2 separate regions of the Homo sapiens genome follow, and region 1 is linked to region 2. Evidence: fine-mapped expression QTL. A gene starts in region 2. The other region holds a variant in brackets. All regions are shown on one strand. Distances are from middle to middle. Region 1 overlaps GALNT6 (polypeptide N-acetylgalactosaminyltransferase 6). Region 2 holds the start of GALNT6 (polypeptide N-acetylgalactosaminyltransferase 6).

Evidence for each region.
Region 1: its variant is fine-mapped to the expression of GALNT6 in lymphoblastoid cells (TwinsUK, PIP 0.95).

Annotation. Positions count from the first base shown.
Region 1 is chr12:51,353,528-51,365,573 of GRCh38, reverse strand. GALNT6 (polypeptide N-acetylgalactosaminyltransferase 6) reads left to right here. Exons shown (of 12, transcript NM_007210.4): 5 at 1-144; 6 at 1,219-1,453; 7 at 4,736-4,853; 8 at 6,242-6,442; 9 at 7,313-7,444; 10 at 8,124-8,225; 11 at 9,616-9,768; 12 at 11,082-12,046. The coding sequence ends at 11,195. Among named protein-coding and RNA genes, the nearest start is that of CELA1, 13 kb to the right of the region's middle. RefSeq lists an enhancer at 7,721-7,770. The variant C/T (reference allele first, on the strand shown) is at 6,461.
Region 2 is chr12:51,384,988-51,397,033 of GRCh38, reverse strand. GALNT6 (polypeptide N-acetylgalactosaminyltransferase 6) reads left to right here and starts at 5,628. Exons shown (of 12, transcript NM_007210.4): 1 at 5,628-5,747; 2 at 6,097-6,184. It also overlaps a transcript of SLC4A8 not described here. RefSeq lists enhancers at 3,148-3,237, 5,281-5,865, 5,866-6,451, 7,413-7,502, 8,528-9,027 and silencers at 5,056-5,595, 8,635-8,929.

The DNA of each region.
Region 1 (12,046 bases), 31 kb after region 2:
TAAAGGAGAAGCTGGAGCAGTACGTGAAGCAGCTGCAGGTGGTGAGGGTGGTGCGGCAGGAGGAGCGGAAGGGGCTGATCACCGCCCGGCTGCTGGGGGCCAGCGTGGCACAGGCGGAGGTGCTCACGTTCCTGGATGCCCACTGTGAGTACCAGGGCACCGGCCTGGGTGTAACCTGGAGGCTCCCTCCCTGCTAGAATGAGCCAGGGCCACAGCCTCCCCAAGGCCCCTTCCTGTTCTCTCTTCCGGGAGTGAAGGAGGCTTGGGACCCACTCCAGGTGCCTCTACCCCTTTCTCACCCCAATCCCAAGGATGTTTCATCAAGAAGACAAACATCCCTAAAACAACTGGTGACCCCAAAATCACTGGAAGTGATTTCCAGTGATCACCGGGGCCCCGGACATTCATCCCTCCCTGTACTCCCATCTGCACCTTGCTCTGAGCTTGGCCCCTCAGAGAGGCCTCCTGCTATGACAGAACTGGCTTGTTTGGGGCTTTCTTCTAGGGCAACATGGAGCCAGGAAGGCCTCCTTCTTGCCCAAAACCAAAACACTTCCCCACTGTTGTGGAGGATGAAATATTTTCCCTAGGAGTGGTGATATATATTAGGGGAAGCTCTAGTCTTGGAGTCAGAATTCTTGGTTTGCATTCTGACCCTGCCCCACTAACAGCCTCAGTTTCCTCATTTATAAAATAGGAATGAGGATACTAACCTTACTGAACAGAAATATTACTCTGAGGGCCGAATGAAGTAATAATACGTGCAGAAGCTCACTGAAAATCTCAAGGAGCTAGACAAATGAAAGAGATTATTCTTCTACAATTAGGGCTGAAGCTTGACATGCGGATGCCCCTGGGAGGGGGAACACCCTCTTCTGAAATCCACACGTGGGCCCGGAGGGCTGGGCCAATGGATCGGCTGGAACCCCGGAAGATACCATCCAGGGCCTCCCTGTGCTTTTGGGTCATCTGAGTTGACCATGTTACTCCCCTGAGACCTCCATTCTCCCTGCCAAAGCTGCCTCCGCCTTTGGGGGTAGAGGGGTGGTAGAAGGGTTTTAGGAAATTCTGTGTGCTCCCTGTAGCTGTGGGGCTTGCTGCCTGTAACCCAGGAGTAGGTGGACTGTCTCTTATCCTCCTGGGCATTCCCTCCAGGATGCAGCTTGGGCTCTGCTGTGGGCAGGGCCCTGACTGCTGCCTCCTGGTTGGGGCCTGCAGGTGAGTGCTTCCACGGCTGGCTGGAGCCCCTCCTGGCTCGAATCGCTGAGGACAAGACAGTGGTGGTGAGCCCAGACATCGTCACCATCGACCTTAATACTTTTGAGTTCGCCAAGCCCGTCCAGAGGGGCAGAGTCCATAGCCGAGGCAACTTTGACTGGAGCCTGACCTTCGGCTGGGAAACACTTCCTCCACATGAGAAGCAGAGGCGCAAGGATGAAACCTACCCCATCAAGTAAGGACCGCAGCCTGGTGAGCCCCCAACCTGGCCCCAGTCCTACCCAGTTCCAGGAACCTGTGCCATCTCACATCAACATTTGTTAGGTGCTCTATCAAGCACTTGACATATTGTGATTAATCCTCACTCCCTATGAAGCAGGTACAATACTAAGAATACTAAGGCTCATAGTGATAAACACTGACCTAAGATCATGCAGCTAGCAACAGTGGAGCAAGGACACACTTCCCGGACTGTCTGGCCCTAACCGTGGCACTGCTCTTATTCACCATGACAGTTTGCTCTTATTCACCACTTACCATGTGCCAGGCACTGAACTAAGGGCTATACATTCTTTAGTTTATTCCTCCCTACACATAAAAGGAGTGGCCCATGCTTGCAGATGGGGCAAGAGATGTGATGGAGGCCATTGTGGAATAGTCACTGTAATAAGAGGGAGTGGTATGTGCCCCCAGGTGACTGTCTTTGAAAAGACTGAGAATATACTAAAAGAAAACAGACACATTTTCTGCAGCGTGAAGTTTGTAGCAGTTGCCCTGAACTTCTTTGGTGAAGGGCCAGATGATAAATATTTTGGGCTTTGCCAGCCACATATAGTTTGCTGCATATTCTTCATCTTATTTATTTTTTATTTTTTTTACAAACATTAAAAAATGTAAAAATAATTTTTTGCCCCAGAGGCTTCTAAAACCAGGCAGCCAGATTTTGCCCACAGGCTCTTGTGTGCCAGCCCCTGAGCTGCAGGGTAGACAATTGGAAGTCAACCCACAGTTTAATGCCCACTGGGCTCACCTTTCCCTCTTATACTCACCCCATCCTCCCCTCTCCAGGCAGCCTGTTGGTGTTATTGGAGACTGTAAGTTTATTTTAACAGTTGTCTCAGACAAACCAAGTTGAGGAGTGACTTTTAGTGTAGCCTGTGGTTTGGGATTATTTGTGTCATTGTTATCTTAGACTGGCCAGTATACTTAAGGCTCAACTGAATATACATCCAGGACGGAGGGATGCAGAGGTTGGAGATACAGTAGCCAGAGATAAGAGGGAAGGTTTGAAAGGAGGAAAGGATTGGTGCTTCTTCCTCTCCACGTGCCCAGAATCCTAAAAAATGCTGTCCATGCCAGGCACAGTGGCCCACACCTGTAATCCCAGCTAGATGAGAGGCTGAGGTGGATTAGGTGGATTGCTTGAGCTCAGGAGTTTAACAACAGCCTGGGCAGCATAGCAAGACCCCATCTCTTAAAAAAGAAAAAGAAAAAAAAAAAAACCTGCTCAGAGTCCCAGTAGAAAGGAACTCAGGTGAATGCCACAGGGAGAAATCCCACAGATCCTGAACAGCCAGCTGCTCTGTCTCCATTAGAAGGAGAGAGGGAAAGGAAAAGGCAAAAGAGAGAAAAGAAATTGGAACTTTCCACTGACCCAATGTTTGTTTCATAGCTGCCTTTTGTTTGGTGTGCACTGCAACAGATCCCCACCCCCACCCCCATGCCAGTGACCAGGCACACAGCAGCACAGTCAGAAAGAGGGCACCTGGCCCCCACCCATCACTGACGTCGCAGGCTTCAATGTCCAAGGGCCATACAACTGGAAGACAAAGCTCCAGTGTTTGAGGAATGAATGTGCTCCTTGGCCCACATGCCCCGGTAGCATGCATGGCTTGCCGAGGCTCTTCATGTAGCGCCCCCACCCCAGGAGGACTGCTGACAGTCCCCTCCCGGCCTCCCATCTCAAGCCAACCAGAGCCTAAGAGGAGAGGCAGAGGACCTGGGGGATTCTAGGGGTAGGCCAGGACATAAAGGGTGTTTACTAGAGGTTGCCTGTGGTTGTGAATTTACAGTGAAGCTTCCCATGCAGGGTTTGTCCTCATGGCTAATCCATCAGTGACTTCTCGGTCTGGGAGACTTCTCAAAGACAAGACTCAGGGCCTGTGGGGGAGGAAGCAGGTTGGCTTCCAAGTGCTCCTCTGCAGTTCCAGCACTCTCTGAGCCTCTCAGGGTGCTACTTGTGCCGGTTTAAGACCCCTGGGAGAGGCCAGAGCCTCTTCCAAAGTGATAGGAAGCCAGCCTGAGCACGACTGAAATTCCTTCCAGAAAGTGGCTGCAGGAGCCAACTTCAGGTAGACAAGAGCAACCACAGGGTAACACCAGGGTCACATTCCTGGGTAGGCACCTTGATGGATCATGCGAATGAACAGTGATTGGGCCCCAGCTGTGTGTAAGGCACCTAGATAGGTTCTGGGGTTACAGGGGTTCTGTATCTTTCTGCTTGGTTGTACCACATGAAGCTGCCCACTGAGGGCAGCAAAGCCCTAGCCATGCCAGGCTGGCCCAAACAGAAACCAGCAGCTGATGATTGTGCTCCTGCCATGTCTCACCGGCCCCCACCCCAGCATTCCATCTTGCTTATACTTCCCCGGGTCCGCTTCGATACCCTAACGCTTAGCCCAGTCCCTCTTCGAAGCAACCTGGTATCTAAATTCTAGGAATTAGATGTTTTTGTCAATTTATCTTATCTTGAGTCCACACCTCCCTGCCTGTGTCTGAAAGCCAGAATCTTTTTATAACCTTCTAAATGTTCCCTGTAGCCCAAATTGAGCTTGATCTCACCTGACCTTCCACTGTTTCCAGGAGCACCTTTTATCAGCTTTCTCTGTTAAAAGCAACTGGCAACTTCTCCCCAAATCTACAGTTTCTCATGCAGTGTAAATCACCAGGGCTAGGCGCCTACTAAAACTGTGGCTTAATAGTCCCTGAGGGGCAGGGGCCCTGAAACAGAATGGAGTCAGCCCAGCTGACAATATTCATTCATTCATTTATTCATGGTTTGAATCCTGCCTATTTTCAAAAACAATTTCACACAGCTTCTGAAAGTTGAGTATCTCCTAGGCTCCAGGCACTTTGCTGCCAAAAAGTAACTAATGGTAGCTTTAACCTCTGTGACTAGATTGAGCTCTGGGGGAATAGGATCTGTCTTTCTCCGTTCTGTGTGTCCATCATGTAGCACGGGCCCTGGTGGCCAGTGTTACGTGCATCCTAGGTTGAACGAATGAATGAGTGCCTTTTAGAGGATAATTACATATTTCCTTGACCTGGTCCTAGAAGGGGAAGAGGACATAGTAAAAGCTAAATGATGAGTGAGTTAGTGGATGAGGGGCTGCACGTCCTGAGAAAGAGGAAAGGAGGGGGAGGTGGGTTAGGAGGGGAGTCCACAAACAGCTTTCCCCGCCAGGCTCCGCTCCTCCTCTCCCAGAAGATGCACACACTTCTCCCTCTGTCTCTCCAGATCCCCGACGTTTGCTGGTGGCCTCTTCTCCATCTCCAAGTCCTACTTTGAGCACATCGGTACCTATGATAATCAGATGGAGATCTGGGGAGGGGAGAACGTGGAAATGTCCTTCCGGGTGAGAGTGAAGAGGGCTTTGGGGGGAACCACAACATCCCAGGCGACAGCTTGAGAAACATCTCTCAGGCAGAGGTGGCATCAGGGACATCCCATCTGGAACTGAACTAGAAAGGGTGGCTATTTCCCAGTGTGTCTCTTCCTCTTTTCTGCTCCCCCTGTCCATGGCAGTAGGGCTTGGGCAGTCAGCCTGGACAGCTCAAAACAAACTACTGGGCACAACTTCTCAGAGGCAAGGAATAATAGGGGTAATGAGGACTGGACATCTGGTGACTGGGGACTCTTTTGCGATGTCTGTGGGAAAGGGTTAGGGTGAAGATAGAAACAGGTTAGTATGTTCACAACTAGGGCTAGAAAAAAAAAACAGATGAGTAACCAGTCATCATCCTTTTTCTGGAAAAATCAGGCTCCCCTTCCCAGTTCAAAGGACACATGCCCTGGTAACCTTTGAAGTTTCCCTACCTATGTACAATAAGCCCTTCATAACAGTCAGAGAAGATGGTGGCCCCAACTCTGGTGGACCCCAGAACTCTGAGAGATTCCAGGAATTAGGCAAATCAGGATTAGGTCAGGAAGCAAGGATTGCCTCTCCATGAAACCTACACAAATCTCCATGCCATGGAAAAGTAATTAGTAAGTAGATGAGCTCATTTATGAAGTCACCTCTCACGGTGCCTGATGCATATTAAGCACGTAATTGATGCCTGCTGTTACTATAACGATTATGTATTTCTGTTGCTGCCACACTAAAATGAATAACAACATACTTTCCCACCTAAAACCCAAAAGAAGAAACCAGTGGGAGGGATGTCTTCAGCCAGCCCACCAGCATAGAAAAGGGTCACCTGCCAGTCACCCCAACTCCCAGCGGCCCAATCCTAGGCTCCTCCATGAGCCTCTGACCTCTGTTCACCTTCCTAGGCAGCCAGTGTGCTAAGGGCCCAAGTGACTACCACTAGCCACCTAGCAGCCAACTATCCTTGCTATTAATTAACAGACTGATGCTCTGGTTTTTATCACCTGAGGGAGCTGATAAACTCACATTTCCAGGTCAAAAAGCCAAGTGATCAGAGCTCAGAGTAGGTATACAGGCACAGGTAACAAAAATTAACCAGCAGGCTTTTCCCTAAAGTGGGCCCTGGTAAACACAGGACCCTGCAGTCTCCCTGTGCTTAAGTCAGAGTGAACCAACATCAGAAAGCCTGGGATCGTGTAGTCATGGCCTAGGAAGAAGCCTGGTCGGTATCCTTTTTCCCAGGGAGAGAGAGCAGCATTTGCCCAAGTCCTTGGACCTGGGGTCTGGTGCTCTGGGAATAGAATAGAGCTGCTTATGGGGAGACTGTCTCACCTAGCCCACTGAAGGCCTCATCCTGTCTCCTCTTACATCAGGTGTGGCAGTGTGGGGGCCAGCTGGAGATCATCCCCTGCTCTGTCGTAGGCCATGTGTTCCGGACCAAGAGCCCCCACACCTTCCCCAAGGGCACTAGTGTCATTGCTCGCAATCAAGTGCGCCTGGCAGAGGTCTGGATGGACAGCTACAAGAAGATTTTCTATAGGAGAAATCTGCAGGCAGCAAAGATGGCCCAAGAGGTGAGAGGAAATGGTTCT[C/T]GGAGAGGTTTAGATGAAGAGAAGTACGGCCCCCAGACCCTGTTCATGGGCCTAATGGCTGGGACCCACCTCATCTCTACCATCTGGCGCCTCCCTTCACCCTCAGGGACCTGTGAGCTAGAGCCCAGGAGAAGGCCACAAGGCACATAGGTTTCAAAAGCTAGAGAATGTTGTCCCTACGCATAGAGTCTCTGCATCCCTTTGGAGGGGAAGGGAGGGAAAGGAGATTTGGAGGAAAAGCCTCTTACGGAGGCTTTGGAGGCTTTGGAGGAATGGCTCTGAGAGCCTCGGCACTGGGGAGTGGGACATAATTGTCTGGGGAGTCACAGGAGATGGACCGATAAGCAGGGGACTCCAAAGCTAAGGCGGGGTTTTTGGGATTGGATGTGAGGGCTGGGCCAGTATCTTTAACAGGTCCTGAGTGGGAATGAACATGAGAGACAGTAGCCCCAGGCGCTCCATGCTATCTGCACTACTTCAGCCCAGACAGGAAGGTCAAAGACTGGTGGAACTGGCTGGGTGTGGTGGCTCACGCCTGTAATCCCAGCACTTAGGGAGGCCGAGGCGGGCAGATCACCTAAGGTGAGGGGTTTGAGACCAGCCTGGCCAACATGGTGAAACCTCATCTCTACTAAAAATACAAAAATTAATTGGGCGTGGTGGTGCGCGACTGTAGTCCCAGCTACTCAGGAGGCTGAGGCAGGTGAATCGCTTGAACCCAGGAGGGGAAGGTTGCAGTGAGCCGAGATTGCACCACTGCACTCCAGCCTGGGCAACAGAGTGAGACTCCCTCTTAAAAAAAAAAAAAAAAACTGGTGGAACTGATCCTTAGGGGGCTGGCTTGATTGACAGAAATCCTTCGGTGACATTTCGGAACGACTGCAGCTGAGGGAACAACTGCACTGTCACAACTTTTCCTGGTACCTGCACAATGTCTACCCAGAGATGTTTGTTCCTGACCTGACGCCCACCTTCTATGGTGCCGTAAGTCTTGAGAACCAACCTGCCTGCCCATCACCACAGCACCCCTTGGAGAAGTTCAAGACCACTGACCCCACAGATGGATGACAAACAAGAATTGAGTTTTGCCCTGCACCCTCCTTTATCCAGGAGGAGGACTGAGAGGCCACGTTGGGGCTTCTAGAGATAGCAAAAAACCTTATAAAGGGCAAAACAACCCACAAGCAGTGGTCCTGAAACATTAGCATGCATCAGAATCACCAGGAAGGCACGGTAAAACGCTAGGGCCCATCCCCAGAGTTCCTGATTCAGAAGGACTCAGGGGAGGTCTGAAAACTTGCATTTCTCACGAGTCTCCAGGTGATGCTGATGGTCCAGGGCTCACATTTGAGAACCACTGCTTATAAGGAAACTCCCACGTGCTGAGGGCTTCTTCCAGGGACCTGGCATCCTGGGAGGTTCCCTGCCTGCCCCACAGAGGGGTTCAGTCCTGCCCTTTCCAGCCTCTGGGGCTCTGCAGCTCACTTTGCTGTTAGCTCCAGGCATGTGGGTTAACGCACAGAGGAGAGAAATGACGGGGGAAATCCAGCCATGCAAATTTGTTGCAGTTGACTGGAATTTGTTCCAGTGGGGCCCCATACCACACATGAGGAACCTCCTGACTGTGCCATCCTGCTTCCCCTCTCTGCTCACCCTTCTGCAGATCAAGAACCTCGGCACCAACCAATGCCTGGATGTGGGTGAGAACAACCGCGGGGGGAAGCCCCTCATCATGTACTCCTGCCACGGCCTTGGCGGCAACCAGGTATGCAGCCCACCCATCTCCGGAGCATCTCCTCTCCTCACCGGCTCCTTTTCTCTACCCTAAAGAGTCCTTTCCTGAGGACTGGGAGGGAGGAGATACCATCCCTGCCCTCAGGAAGCTTCCAGTCGGAGGAGAAGGCATAACACACACAAGGTCTGAATAAGGGACATCCGGAGAGAACGAGGCATCGGTGCTGGGTGTGAGAAGGGGATGGGAGGGAGGGTTGTTCATCAGAGGAGGCTTGAGGAGGCTAGCTGCTGGGGGATATTTAGGGGTGAGGGTGGAAAATTTTCCAGCACATCCCATCACCTGCACTCAACTTCTATCTTCAATGCATCCTCTGCCCAGAAGCTACCACTCTGATCCTACCACCTTCCAGTGACCCCAAAACTAGGTGCCCAGCACTAGTAAGTGAGAGGCACTGAAAACAGAGCCAGAGTGGGGAAAGGAGTGGTGTGGGTCACTGAACAAGCCCGCTGGCATATGTAGGTGAAGACAGTCATTCTACAGCAGTTTCCTGTACCACTGGCCTGCAAGATGATTTCCAGTGGTGCACTGGAGAACATTTTTTATTTTAATAGTAATGTATTAGCAAAAATAGAACAAGCATATCACATGATTTCACGGATGTTACTTAAAATGAGGCTAAGTTAAATTGAATTTTAATCTAATTTAAAGGAAATATGATTAGGCACGGTAGCCCACACCTGTAATCCCAGCACTTTGGGAGGGTGAGGCAGGTGGATCACATGAGCCTAGGAGTTTGAGACCTGTCTGGGCAACATAGCAAGACACCCCATCTCTATAAAAAATTTTTAAAAAATTAGCTGAGTGTGGTGCTACACGCCTGCAGTCTCAGCTACTCAGGAAGCTGACATGGAGGATCGCTTGAACAAACGAATTCAAGGTTGCAGTGAGCTATGATCATGCCACCACACTCTAGCTTAAGCAACAGAGCAAGACCCTGCCTCAAAAAAAAAAAAAAAAAAAAAAAAGAGAAAATATACTGGTTGGGCGCAGTGGCTCACACCTGTAATCCCAGCACTTTGGGAGGCCAAGGTGGGAGGATCACTTGAGCTCAGGAGTTTGAGACCAGCTTGGGCAACATAGCAAGACCCCATCTCATAAAAAAGAATTTTATATACATATACATATATATATACACACATATATATATACACACACACATATATATATATGTATATAAAATTCCAGCATAACCCTGATATGGTAACAATCCTGAAGGCAGCACATAAATGAGTAAAGTCTTGGCATGGCCTCACATTCACTCTCCTCCCCAGGAGACCATGCATGGTAGACAGCTCAGGGCAGGTGGCTTTGGAAGGCTGGGGGTGAACTCTCCACCTGCTTCTCTTGTCTTGATTTCCAGTACTTTGAGTACACAACTCAGAGGGACCTTCGCCACAACATCGCAAAGCAGCTGTGTCTACATGTCAGCAAGGGTGCTCTGGGCCTTGGGAGCTGTCACTTCACTGGCAAGAATAGCCAGGTCCCCAAGGACGAGGAATGGGAATTGGCCCAGGTGAGTCAGTGTCCAGAAAGCTCAGAATCAAGAACTTGAGGCCAGGTGTGGTGGCTCACGCCTGTAATCCCAGCACTTTGAGAGGCCGAGGAGGGCAGATCACGAGGTCAGGAGTTCGAGACCACCTGGCCAACATGGTGAAACCCCATCTCTACTAATAATACAAAAATTAGCTGGGCATAGTGGTCGGCGCCTATAATCCCAGCTACTCAGGAAGCTGAGGCAGGAGAATTGCCGGAACCCAGGAGGCGGAGGTTGCAGTGAGCTGAGGTCGTGCCATTGCAGTCCAGCCTGGGTGACAGAGCAAGACTCCATCTTGGGAAAAATAAAAAATAAAAAGAGAACTTGAGGCCACATCGGCCCCTCTATATTTTCTTCATTTTCTTCCTGAGACGCCATGGGGTGGAGTAGAGCAATGTAGAAGGTAGGTGAGTGTGTGTGTGGCCACAGGCAGGGTTCTTCAGGCTTAAAGGGTATTTGGTGATGACTGATGTAAAAATGGGGTGACAGGTTATGGTTCGTGGCTAGCTCTGCCATGGCTGAAGCATTTTTAGGCTGAACCCAATTAGAAGAAGGTGAAGAGTCATTCATAGTTCCTGCTTGTCCTCTGTGTCCTAGGCTCAAAGCTAGGCACTCACATGCCTGGGTCCAGTTAATCTTTCAGAGGCTCTTTCCAAGCAGGAATAGTCACTGTTTCTACAGATGAGCTGGAGCCGGAGGAAGCCCAGCATGTCTGTGACTGGCCCAAGACCCATCACTAGTAAATGGCAGGCCTGGGATTTAGCCCCAGATGGGTCTGACTTGAAAGCACGGGCTCTTTCCATTACACCACACTGCTCCAGGATATGCCATGTAACCGCCACCATGCTGAGCTCAAGCCAGCACCCCAAGTGAGCCTCCCTACTCCACCCCAGCTTAGGAAAGAGGAACCTAACCTGGAGGCTGCAGGGAAGGGAGCAGTCTAAACATAATCCAAGGCAGAAAATTGGAGGTGGAGCAGTGGCCCTGGGTCTTTGAGCCTGGCCATCTGGGGGTGCGGGAGGCCCTGAAAGCATTTTTCTCTCAGCCCATGGTCTTGTCTTTCACCATTTCATCCACTCAGTCTGAAGCTAGGGATGGGGATTTGGCACCAGATAGAGGTGGGAACTCAGGAATGTGTCTCATGAGAGGGCAGGAAAGGAATGGGGAAGTGTCCTCTTTGTGCCTTGTGGGGTTCCCTTGGCTTTTGTCAATTGCACCCCATCGCATTGTCCCTGGTAGCACCGTTAAGAGGTCTGTGGCCCAGACTGACCTTTTGCTTTGTCATCTTTTAGGATCAGCTCATCAGGAACTCAGGATCTGGTACCTGCCTGACATCCCAGGACAAAAAGCCAGCCATGGCCCCCTGCAATCCCAGTGACCCCCATCAGTTGTGGCTCTTTGTCTAGGACCCAGATCATCCCCAGAGAGAGCCCCCACAAGCTCCTCAGGAAACAGGATTGCTGATGTCTGGGAACCTGATCACCAGCTTCTCTGGAGGCCGTAAAGATGGATTTCTAAACCCACTGGGTGGCAAGGCAGGACCTTCCTAATCCTTGCAACAACATTGGGCCCATTTTCTTTCCTTCACACCGATGGAAGAGACCATTAGGACATATATTTAGCCTAGCGTTTTCCTGTTCTAGAAATAGAGGCTCCCAAAGTAGGGAAGGCAGCTGGGGGAGGGTTCAGGGCAGCAATGCTGAGTTCAAGAAAAGTACTTCAGGCTGGGCACAGTGGCTCATGCCTGAAATCCTAGCACTTTGGGAAGACAATGTGGGAGAATGGCTTGAGCCCAGGAGTTCAAGACCGGCCTGAGCAACATAGTGAGGATCCCATCTCTACGCCCACCCTCCCCCCGGCAAAAAAAAAAAGCTGGGTATGGTGGCTTATGCCTGTAGTCGCAGCTACTCAGAAGGCTGAGGTGGGAGGATTGCTTGTTCCCCGGAGGTTGAAGCTACAGTGAGCCTTGATTGTGTCACTGCACTCCAGCCTGGGCAACAGGTAAGACTCTGTCTCAAAAAAAAACAAAAAAGAAGAAGAAAAGTACTTCTACAGCCATGTCCTATTCCTTGATCATCCAAAGCACCTGCAGAGTCCAGTGAAATGATATATTCTGGCTGGGCACAGTGGCTCACACCTGTAATCCTAGCACTTTGGGAGGCCAAGGCAGGTGGATCACCTGAGGTCAGAAGTTTGAAACCAGCCTGGACTACATGGTGAAACTCCATCTCTACTAAAAGTACAAAAATTAGCTGGG
Region 2 (12,046 bases):
CGCTTGAACCTGGAAGGTGGAGGTTGCAGTGAGCTGAGATCGTGCGACTGCATTCCAGCCTGGGCGACAGAATGAGACTCCGTCTCAAAAAAAAAAAAAAAAAAAAAATTAACTAAGGCTGAAGTAAAATCATAATAAATTCCATTTTGGAACAAATAAAATATTTAAAGTAATGCTGTGAGTTTTAATACACCTATGTTTCAAGTTTTAAATGTTTTTTCAACTACTTTAATGCTCTAGGAAAAAATAACCATTCAAAAAATACAGAAAAATATGTATGAGGGTATATATTTTTCTTTTTTCCTTAGGCTTCAATATGGCTTAGAAGGAAACTAGTCTTTTTTTTTTTTTTAAATAAAGATGGGGTCTCACTATGTTGCCCAGGCTGGTCTTAAACTCCTGCGCTCAAGTGATCCTCTTGCCTCAGCCTCCCAAAGTGCTGGGATTACAGACATGAGCCACCAGGCCCAGCTGATTCTTTATTTTGAATTTTTGATACTTTGTCCATCACTGATTTTTTGCATTAATTTTGATTTTTTTAAAATATTGCATTAAAGTATTATTTATCTTGGTTACTGAGTTTTTAGATGCCCCCATAAATTTTGCACTCAAGAGAAGTGCCCTCACTTGCCTTACCCTAGTCCTAGCCCTGCTCCTTCATAGTCATTTTTACATCAGGCTCCCCTGACAAACTATGGGTGTCTGGATGAGACAGACATGACTTATTATCCTTGTATCTCCACACCTGACCTAGCATAGAGGCTAACACATGGAGCACTTTAACAGCATTTTATTGAAGGGAGGAATGGAGGAAGGAAAGAAGAAAAACAGCTAATATTATAATGGCTAACATCCAAATTTCAACTGACTGCTTATTGTGTACCAGATGCTGGGTTAAGCACTTTGCTTATTTAATCTTACAACCCAATCATAAAAATAACATATCCATTTTACAGATGAGGAAATTGAGGCACACAGAAATGGGTGAATTGTAGCGCATGAGTGATTATGGCAGAACTAGGAGCAGCTCTGCTTGGGTTCCCTAAAATATTTCTCGCTTTAACTGTTTCTCTCCTGAGCATGGGAATGAGATGAGGAGTAAATGTGAATATGCAGGAAAGTAGAGCAGCAGATGTAATTTAGAAGACCCAACTCTCACACTTTCATGTGTTATCTCACTTGAGCTTCATTAACAACCCCAGGTATCATTAACTGCACTTCACAGATAAGAAACAAAGAGGTAGGGAGGGAGTGGGAGACTCCGTTGTTTCCCTCAGGGTAGAGGAGAGTGGGTGAGATGAGAGGTAGTGATAGGACAGAGGGAGGTTGACCAGCTGGCCTCCCTACTAACCTCCTTGGCAAGTTCACGGCATCCCTTGCACACTCCCCTAGCTAAGTGGAGCCAGCACCTCCCCCTGAAGGGCAGGTCTCCCTCACTCTGCCCCACCAGAGGTGGGTATCCCCTCACCAGGGACCGTGTGGAAGGAAGAGACTAGATAAAGGCCAGGGCTGGTGTCAACGGCCTCACAGAGCTGCCTTTGTCACACTTCCACTGTTCTGCTCCCCTCCAGGTTTCCTGCCTTATGGTGGGGAACACCCTTGATGCACACTCATGTGAAAAGTGAAACTCAGAACACCCAAAACCCGAATCTAAAACAGCCAAGAAATAAAAATAAGATCGTGAGAAAAAAAAAAAAGAAATTCATAGGACTTCCTGAGAAGGGGTCATCCTGGGTCTTTGCAGTTAACAGAATCTAGACATGTCCTGCAGAAGCGCTTATGGGAACTTTCAGTCAGGAATATGCACGGGACCTTGGACCCAAGGTTTCTGGAGATAGAGACAATGTCTAGAGAGGTGGGAAATGGAGCTTTCACTGTATACATTTTCATAGTGCCTGACTTATTACCATGTGCATATATAACTTTTTCATTTTTATTTTCCATTTCATTTACGTATAACTTTTTCATTTACAGAAACCCGTTTTTTTTTTATTTATTTTTTTCAGAGACATGGTCTTGCTCTGTTGCCCAGACTAGAATGTAGCATTGCAGTCACAGCTCGCCGCAGCCTCTAACTCCTAGGCTCAAGCAATCCTCCCACCTGAGCCTCCGAAGTAACTGGGACCACAGGCACATGCCAACACACCCAGCTAATTTTATTTTCATTTTTTCACTATCATATATGTTTTTTAAACTTTTAGGTTCAGGAGTACATGTCCAGGTTTGTTACATGGGTAAATTGCATGTTGCGAGGGTTTGGTGTACAGATGATTTTGTCATCCAGGTAATAAGCATAATACCCGCTAGGTAGTTTTTGATCTTCTCCCTCTTCCCACCCTCCACCCTCAAGTGGGCCCCCGTGCCTGTTGTATTTTTATTTTTTGTAGAGACAGGGTCTCGCTGTATCAGGCTGAACTCAAAGTCCCGGCTTCAAGTGATCTCCCACCTCAGCCTCCCAAAGTGCTGGGATTACAGGCATGAGCCACCACTCCCAGCCTAAAAAACCATTTTTCGAAAGTTGCCTGTACCAGCGGAGGCAGAAATTGCAGTCACTATTCTGTGGTGGCTCATCTGCAAACCTTCCTGGCTTGGTGGAGAGGAAGCCTGCACCGTCCTTCCTGTTAGGAGAGAACAGCTCAGTGCATGACACATTAGGGGTGGGTCACACATCCTGCGGACTCATGAACCTCCAAATTAGGCAGCTAATTATTCTGAGGATTCCAAGTCACATTTAAAATCAGCGTCAGCTGAAGTAAAATCAGATGAGTAATTTGCTTCCGGAATGCGAAACACACAACGCAGACTGCTGCTACTTCTTGGGAAGCTGGGCCCGGCCCTCTCAGGAGCACCAGGCTGGGGGTAATGGCCATGACCCTGTCCTGGGAAGGAATAGGGGCCATTCACCTCAGGTTAGGTTGGGTCCTGACTAAGGTGCAAGACTCACGTCAGGATCACACAACCCCTGAGGGTCAAAGGGCAGAGGTGGAGGAAGGACAGAGCAAAGACGGTAGGTCCGACCTGTACAGGGAGTGTTCAGCCCCAAGAAGAGAGACATGAGGGGCAGCATCCCACAATCTTCCACAGGAAGTGCCCTCATTCTGAGAAAGACAGCTGTCAAGTAAGGCACATGACAAGAATAGAAGCAGCTGGGGCAGTGAGGTGGAATCAGAGTCCAGAGGGTCTACAGATGGGCTAAGGGATGCTCAAGGAAGCTCTGTAGAAAGTCTCTCTAGGAGCTTAAAGCCCACGGCCTGGAATGTGAAAGGAAGGGAGTTGGTGGAAGGCTGCTTAGAGTTAGGGGAGTCGGGCATCATGCCAAGAGTGAGCAGATGAACCCCTTTCTACTCCTGGGAGAATGTCCATCCTTCACGTCACTCTGATCATGTGTAGCTGGGCAACTCTTCTTCTCCACACTCTGCTGGCCTTCTCTCCTGACTCCATCAAAGAACATCTCACCTTCTGAATAGATCAAACCTACCTTGGAGTCTCAGGTTAGAAAAAAAGATTACTTTCTTCATTCACCTGTTAACACCCGGCTGGCTTCCCTGCCTTTCCCAGTGCGTGTCAGAACTTCTTGCTAGGATCTACTCACTCATGCTCCTGCTCCCAGGTCTTAGGGTCTTAGAAATACAAATTCATGGCTGGACTCGGTGGCTCATGCCTCTAATCCCATCACTTTGCGAGGCCGAGGCAACAGGATGGCTTGAGCCCAGGAGTTTGAAACCAACCTGGGCAACATGGCGAAACTCCCTCTCTACAAAAAAAAGTTAGCTGGGCATGGTGGCATGCATCTGTGGAGGCTGAAGCAGGAGAACAGCTTGAGACCCGGAGGTCAAGGCTGCAGTGAGCCGTGATAGCTCCACTGCACTCCAGCCTGGGCAGTAGAGCAAGAAAAGAAAAGAAAGAGAGAAAGAAAGAGAAAAAGAAGGAAAGAAAGAGAAAGAAGGAAAGAGAGAGAGAGAAAGGAGAGACAGAGAGAGTAAGAAAGAAAGAAAAAAGAAAAAAGGAGGGAGGCGGGGCAGCAGAAAGAGGAAGAAAACAGAAAGAAAGAAAGACAAATTTATTTAAATATCAAAACAAAAGAGAAACTGAACTAGTGGTAGAAGTTTCTACCATAGAAAGTTTTCAAATTATTGGCTATTTGGAGTCATGCGCGCTCCTTCTCTGTTGCTAAGGCCCCAAAAGATTGCAGCACACGAGGCAGCGCCGGAGAGGACCACTGAGCAGCACGGGCCCTGGCGGGGTAATTCCGAACACCGGCTTAGGAGGCGGGTTTACCAGGATTCTCATTCCAGCCCTGCCACTAATTGTTCAGGGTTCTCAAGGTCGAGCATGCACAAAATCACCCGGAGGGCTTTTAAAACACAAGTCGCCGGGCCCAACCCGAGTTTCGGAATATTTAGGTCTGCGGTGGGGCCCATTTCTTTTCTTTTCTTTTCTTTTTTTCTTTTTTTTTTTTTTTGATACGGAATCTCGCTCTGTCGCCAGGCTGGAGTGCAGTGGCGTGATCTCGGCTCACTGCAACCTCCCCCTCCCGAGTTCAAGCGATTCTCCGGCCTCAGCCTCCCGAGTAGCTGGGATTACAGACGCCCGCCACTACGCCCAGCTAATTTCTTGTATTTTTAGTAGAGACGGGGTTTCACCATGTTGGCCAGGCTGGTCTCGAATTCCTAACCTTGTGATCCGCCCGCCTCGGCCTCCCAAAGTACTGGGATTACAGGCATGAACCACCGCGCCCGGCCAAAATTTCTAATAAGTTCTCAGGTGATTCTGACTGGCGCTGCTGGTGGGGGATCCCACTTTGAGAAACACCCTCTGCTGTGTGAGCAGCTGCCTCCCCGGTACATTCGGAATAATCATAGTAGGTTTAAAGTTTGCTGGGGCTGGGATTCACCTGATACCTGGCACTTGGAGCCCTTGACACAGTTCATGGCACACGGAATACGAGCTCTTGTTGGATGGAGCACAAATGAGAAGCAAACCTGGGGCAGGACCCCGGGGCCCATGGCCGCCCCGCCGCGTTTCCCCCTCCGGGGCAGGCCTCCGGGCTCCGAGCGCTCCAGGCTGGCGCGCAGCACATTCCGGTTCCATGCACCCGCCGCCCGCGGCTCTGCTAATGCCTGTCCTCTTTGGGGTGACTAGGACCCTCCAATCTTTTTCCGCGCTGAAAGCCTGGCCGCAAAGACCGCACCCCCGGGGCGGGCTGAGACGCAGAGAAGCCGGGGCGCCCCTCTGCCGGTCCGCCGGGAGTTCCCGGGCCCGCAGCAGGCTGAGGACACGGCGGGACCCGCTGCACCTGGCCAGGGAGGGGCGGGGCGGGCGCGTTAGTGCAGCTGGGGGAGGTCCCGCCCCGGTCCCACCCTCCCGGCCGTCCGGTGGGGAAACCCGGGAGCCACCCCGCGGCGCGGCTGCGGCTTTGCCTCGGCGCGACAGGTAAGCGGCAGAAGGAGCCCGCGACCCTCTCCCCGGGAGGGCCCCCCTGAGCTCCCCGACTGCTCGGACTTCCCTTCGGCGGATCTCGCTTCTGCCGAGTCCTCGCTCTCACCTCCTCCTCCGCCAGCCTTCGCCTCTTCCTCTTCCTCCTCACTACCCCCGACAGTAAAATGAAGGGGCTGGGCCAGGCTGGTCCCTCCTGCCTTCGCTCTCTGCTGGTCGCGGTGGCCTGTAGCTCCTCCCTCGGTAGGACCCCCCTCCACCTTGGCGCTTACGAGATGAATGAGGAGCCCAGACCTCTGGAACTTGGAGGGGTGAGAGGGGGACAAGCCAGAGCCAGGGCTCCACACCCTCTTCCCCTCACCCACCCATGCCCTGCATTCCTTCTGTGCCCCGTCTCCCCAGATCGGGCCACCCCATGTGCTCTGGTACGGCAACTCTTGCAGAGAGGTTTCCTCCTGCCCTGCCACGTTGCGCCTGAGCAGAAGGGGACAGCAAGGAGAAGCCTCGCTGGTGGAGGTCGGTCTGAGCCCTGCTTGGTTGAATTCCCTCCAGAGCCTGGGGGCTTTTGGGGGTGGGAAGGGATCTGCCTCCTGCTGTGGGGAAATGGAATCTGCTGGGTGTTCATGACTGTGACTGTCACCGACTTCCCTATTTCCTCAGTTGTTCAGATTCCCAGGCTGACAAAAAGGAGAAACAGCTTTTACTTGCATCCAGGGCCAATCATCGCAGACCCAGACGTCTGCAGAGGGTAGGATGGGGCTCTTCTGTGTATGGGGGTGGAGGGTGGTCAGTTTGCCCACAAAGCTTACAGCAGACCCCTTCTAGCAGCCGACAACCCATTGCAGCACTCTCAGAAAGGATGTTAACTCTGTGCTCTGAGCTCGCCCCCAGGCCCACACACACAATTTACAGGCACTGGGTGAGGTTCATAGTTCTGGACACACCAAAGAGCCTCGAGGACTTTTGCGCCTTCTACCAGAGATGTGTGTGCACCACACAGGCCCTATTCTCCGCTCCAGACAGATGAGCTGTCTCCCTTCCCATCAAAGGAAAGGTTAAGAAGGATGAGACAGGGAAATTCATGTGATGATGAAAACCAGGTCAGGTGAGGGGTTTGAAATATGCTTTGGTTCCGGCCACATGTGGTGGCTCATGCCTGTAATCCCAGCACTTTGGGAGGCTGAGGCTGGTGCATCACCTGAGATCAGGAGTTCGAGACCAGCCTGGCCAACATGGCAAAACCCCATCTCCACAAAAAATACAAAAAGTTAGCCGGGCATGGTGGCAGGCGCCTGTAATTCCAGCTACTTGGGAGGCTGAGGCAGGAGAATTGTTTGAACCTGGGAAGCAGAGGTTGCAGTGAGCTGAGATCGCACCATTGCATTCCAGCCTGGGCAATAAGAGCAAAACTCTGTCTCAAAAAAAAAAAAAAAAAAAAAAAGAAAGAAAGAAAGAAAGAAATATGCTTTGATTCCAATTGCCTAGCAGGAGCCAGTAGCATTGCAGGCATTTCCCTAGCTCCAGTTCCTTAATGGTGCCATGCACTTTAGGAACCCAGAGGTAATCAGAGAAAGTTGCTTCCAGGGGCACCAGGGCAGAGAACAGGACAAGACCCTCAAAAGAAAGAGGGAAGTGTGCAGGAGACTGGGCTGCTCAAGATGACCTCACCTCAGTAATGCTGCCCACAGTCCTACAGTGGGTGGAACAGCTGACTCCTACCTGTAGCAGCATGGAAGAACTCAGGGCAGAGAAGGGGAGGCCCTGATGTGTGTCAGGTGCCCTGTGAGGTCAGAAACATATTTGCCCAAGTTCAGCTGGAAGAAGTGGGGACAGGAAATATGAGCATGAACTTAGTCCATGCAACCATTGCCTCGAACAGACCTCAGGACCAGGAGGGGCAGCTAACCCTAGGGCTGAGGGCCTCTCAGTGCAGGGAGGCAGTGAGTATCATGAAGGCAGGCAGCTGACTCAGCCCTGTCACTAACTTCGATATATAATCTTAGCCAAAACACATAAACACTCCCTGGGTGGGGAGCAAATGAGAAGGTGTATATGAAGTGTTTTGGCAAAGCTCCAAGCACCAGTCAAATGCAAGACAATGTGATGTCATAGTTAAGAGAGTGGGCTTTGGAGATACATAGGCCTGAATGCAAATTCTGCCTCTGCCACATTTCTAGCTGTGTGACCTTGGTCAAGTTACTTGACCTCCCTGTGCTTCAGTTTCCTTCTGTGTAAAACAGAGAAGATAACTGTAACTTGATTTGATATGGTAAGCAGTAATATTTAAAATGGTGATGGTATTCTTCTTAACATTTTCTGGCTCCCACGGATGTGTTCCGACATCTCAGCCCTGGAAGGGATGCTGAAGACCAGGTTGGGTGTGTCCATGCCGTAGCTTGGGTGAACTCAGCTCTTTACACAGTCCTCTGCCCCTTTCTGGGAAAGCCCAAATGTTCATTCTCATTTGATAGGAACGAGAGTGAGGATTTGAATAAGCAGGAGGTTAAGTGCAGGGCAGTGCCTGTCTCTGTGTCGAGCTCAATGTTGTAATTGTGCTGTGTAAAAGGCCTGTGTGGTGAACAAGGGTGAGCTCACTCCAGGGAGGAGAAGGACTGTTAGAAGACTTTTGTGGCACCTGACAGCCCTGTGGGGTCAGCTTATTCTCTCGTACCCTGAACAACTTGGTCCTAAGGCCTAGGTAGAGATTTGAAGGAAGAAAGCAACCCAGTCCTCAACTCTGCACGTAATAGAGAATGAAGAACAGACTAGCAAAATAGCATTGCCATACATCTCAAGGCAGAGAGATGCGACAGGGATTGGAAGGCCAGGTAGATTGGTCAGGAAGAACATTCTGGAGACAGAAGTTTGGGGACCAAGACTCAAGGATTGGGAAGGAGAAGGAAATAGGATCTAGGTGGTCTACCGTCTAGGCCTGTTGGTTCTCCCTTCTCCATGATAGTTAGTGGGGAAATCCCACGTAAGGAAAGCACGGGTAGTAGAGAAACTTGGGAACAAATAACACCTAGAAACTGAGGCAGCAAGATGCACCTTAGTCTAGGAAGCCTTCTTGAAAGAGGGGAGTCTCTGGTAAGAATTTGAAAGAAAAGAAATATGGCTTGCTTAGCAAGAATATAAGGGAAAGGCTTTGAGGAAGAAAAGATAGCCAGTGAGTGCCAAGCATCTGGTTGGGCTTGAGGGTGAGCAGCAAACAGGAAGCAACCCGGCCAGCCCCTCTGTGTTTCTGCCACAGTCAAACAGTGCTCAAGGAATATGAATACGGCTGTCCTGATTGTGAAAGAGAGAGAGGGGCCCGAGGCAAAGGAGGCTGGCAGGCAGCTCCTGCTGATCCTCCAGATGCTAGTTGATAAAGGCCCAATTTCAAATGAAGGTTTTGAAAGCAGAAAGGACAGTGAGGAACCCGGAGGCAGGGAATGAATCAGCAGGACTTGGGAGCGGGTGTGGGGTGAACCTGAAATTGAGACAGGATTAAAAACGACCTGTCTGAGAGTGGGACAGGGGCTGGCTTGTTTCACGGACTTCAATGCTTCTGGCAGCAATGGGGAAATTGGGCAGGCTGGCTAGCAGAGGAGGCTGGGCACAGACCCTGAGCCCAGGGGATGGTACATTGAGTAGCCAGTGGCCCCGGGTGAAAGTTCTGCAGCCAAGAGCAGACTGGGGGATGAGGAGAAAAGGAAAAATTCAATTCTAGTCTCTCCCATTAAGCCCCCTTCCCAATTTGAAGACTGGCCCAAGAGGCCTTCGGGAATACCCCTCCTGTCTTCCACCCTTCTCATCACTTCCCTGTCCCTTCTCTGTCCTTTCCCCCAACTCTCCCCCTCAAGCCCAGTCTCGTTGTCACCAAGGCTTCTAGGTGATTAGAGAATCCCACCTCATCTCCACCTGGAACCCTCCCTCCACTTCTGCACTCCTAGGGATAAACCGTTGCACACCCCTGCCCCACCTGGAAGGGCCTACAGGGTCTCCAGTGAAAAACCTGTGAACTGTTGAACCTCCTGTTTGGTGGCATATTATTTTGATTTTTGGTGACTTTTTCTTGGAATAAGTCAACAAATATTAACCAAGTGCCTACCACATGCCAAGCGCTGCTCTAGGTATACAGTGGTGAGCAAAGTTGGGTTGAGTTTTTCAATAGAAAATCCATGTTTGGGTAATTTAAGCTTAAAATATCATGCAAACAGGCTGGATGCATTGGCTCACACCTGTAATCCTAGTACTTTGGGAGGCCGAGGCAGACAGATCACTTGAGGTCAGGAGTTCAAGACTAGCCTGGCCAACATGGCGAAACACTGTCTCTACTAAAAAAATACAAAAATTAGCCGGACGTGGTGGCGGGCGCCTGTAATCCCAGCTACCCGGGAGGCTGAGGGATGAGAATCGCTTGAACCCAGGAGTCGGAGGTTGCAGTGAGCCGAGATCCCGCCACTGCACTCCAGTATGGGCAACAGAATGAGACTCCATCTCAAAAAAAAAAAAATTATGCAAACATAAAATGAACCTTGATATGTTGGGGGAACTTGACAGACTAGCTACAGAAATAATTTTCAGCGTATCTTCCTGGGAAAATAAGCCACAGTATTGCAGCTTGAGTCTTGGAGAAAAGCTGAAGTGTCTTGAAGGTGTAATTACGGGGAAAAATAAAAACCTCCCACATTCTGTGATCAAAAGGGTCAGGGGTGGGAGGAGGGCTTTGGAGAAGATAATTTGCTCTTCTGTTCACAGTATGAGTACAGAGGACTTGAGATGAGTGCTGTGTTTGATGGAGAGAAAGTGCTTATGAGGAAGAAAGGACGGTCATTTGGCCAAACAGCCTCTCAGCCCCATTTCCCCCAACAGTAGTGTGAAATTAACCTGCCCCCTCCCCAATATGATGTCTAGCTCCACACACCTGTGCCCGTGGTAAGAGTGGTGACAGTTATCACTTTCCAAAGAAACTTGTAATTGAGCCCTCCTCTGAGTAACTTGAGCAAATATCGCTGTGGTAAGGACTGCTTGCTTCCTGCTGCCACGTCTAAGGAGGTGACCAGCTCACCTGATAAATAGAAAGAAACATTGTTACAAAGAGGCCACCTGGAAAGCTAGGGCATGTTCTGGATGGCTGACTCTGACATTCACAAAAGCTAAGGCTGCCTGGGACTTCCAGTCTCCACATCTTTAAAGCATTTGTATCCTTGAGTGGGAGGAAGGCAAATGCCAGGAAGGGGATCAAAGGGTGGAGTCGGGGAGGCTCAGGGAGGACAGGCCTGGTCCCCAAATTCCCTACTCAACCTCCACGGGTATGAGTGTGGTAAACAGAGTAGTGGTCTAGGAGTTGAGAGATCGGGTTCTACTCCTGGGAGCCACTAGCTGTGTGTTGCTAGAGAAGTCACCTAACCATTCTGGCCTCGCCGTTGATAAAATGAGGGTGTTAGACCCACAGACAGACCTAGTCAAAACAGCAAGCTAATGTGTAATGGCAGAATATCCTGTAAGTCAAGTATTTCTTGCAGTAAGTTCATTCAGAACATCATTTAGTGAAGCCAGTGCTCCACATTTAACCCTTCCAACCTCATCTCATTTAACAAGAGTTTGTGGAACTAGCCAGGCCTGATGGCACGCACCTCTGTATTCCCAGCTACTCAGGAGGCTGAGATAGGAGGATTGTTTGAGCCTGGGAGGTCGAGGCTGCAGAAAGCTGTGTTCATGCCACTACACTTCAGCCTGGGTGACAGAGTGAGACCCTGTCTCCAAGAGAAAAAAAAAAAGTTTATGGAACACCTGCTATATGTAAAACTTGTGCTAGACTTTGTAGGTGATAAAAAGCTGGAAATGGCATGGCCTCTCTGGTCCAGGAGTCCATAAACACAGGGTGGGCTGTGATGAGACTGGAGTACAAATAAAAATCGGGTGCTAAGGGGGCAAAGCAGGGAAGAGATGAATTCTGCTGGGAGATCTGAGAAGGCTTTTTGGAGGGGGGCTAGAATATAAACTGTGGGGTTTGGACTGTGTCACTGGCTTTCAAACTTCTATGACTTGACCAAAGTGAGAAATATACTTTATAGCGAGACCCGGTACCTGTGTATATGTGACAGGGCATCCCAAAAATCTTAGGGCAGTTTTATAATTTAATCACATTACAAGCATAAATTCTGCAAACCATAAAAACTATCATTTGAAAATGGAATCATTTAAACTTCTTTTGTCTTTAGTTGTATGAATTTTGAATAACAAATTTATCATTTTAATTTTGTATCAGGCAGTGTGTATCTTTAATAGACTGAAACAAACATTAAAATAAAAGTTTACTTTTCAGGCTGGACATGATGGCTCACACCTGTAATCCCAGCACTTTGGGAGGTCAAGGCAGGAGGATTGCTTCGGCCTAGGAGTTGAAGACCAGCCTGGGCAGCATAGTGAGACCCCCATCTCTACCAAAAAATAAAAATTAGCCGGTCTTGATGACACACACCTATGGTCCCAGCTACTCCAGAGGCTGAGGTAGGAGGATCCTTTGAGCCCAGGAGGTCAAGGCTGCAGTGAGCTGAGATTGCACCACTGCACTCCAGCTTAAGGAACAGAATGAGACCCTGTCTCCAAAAAAAAAGAAAGAAAG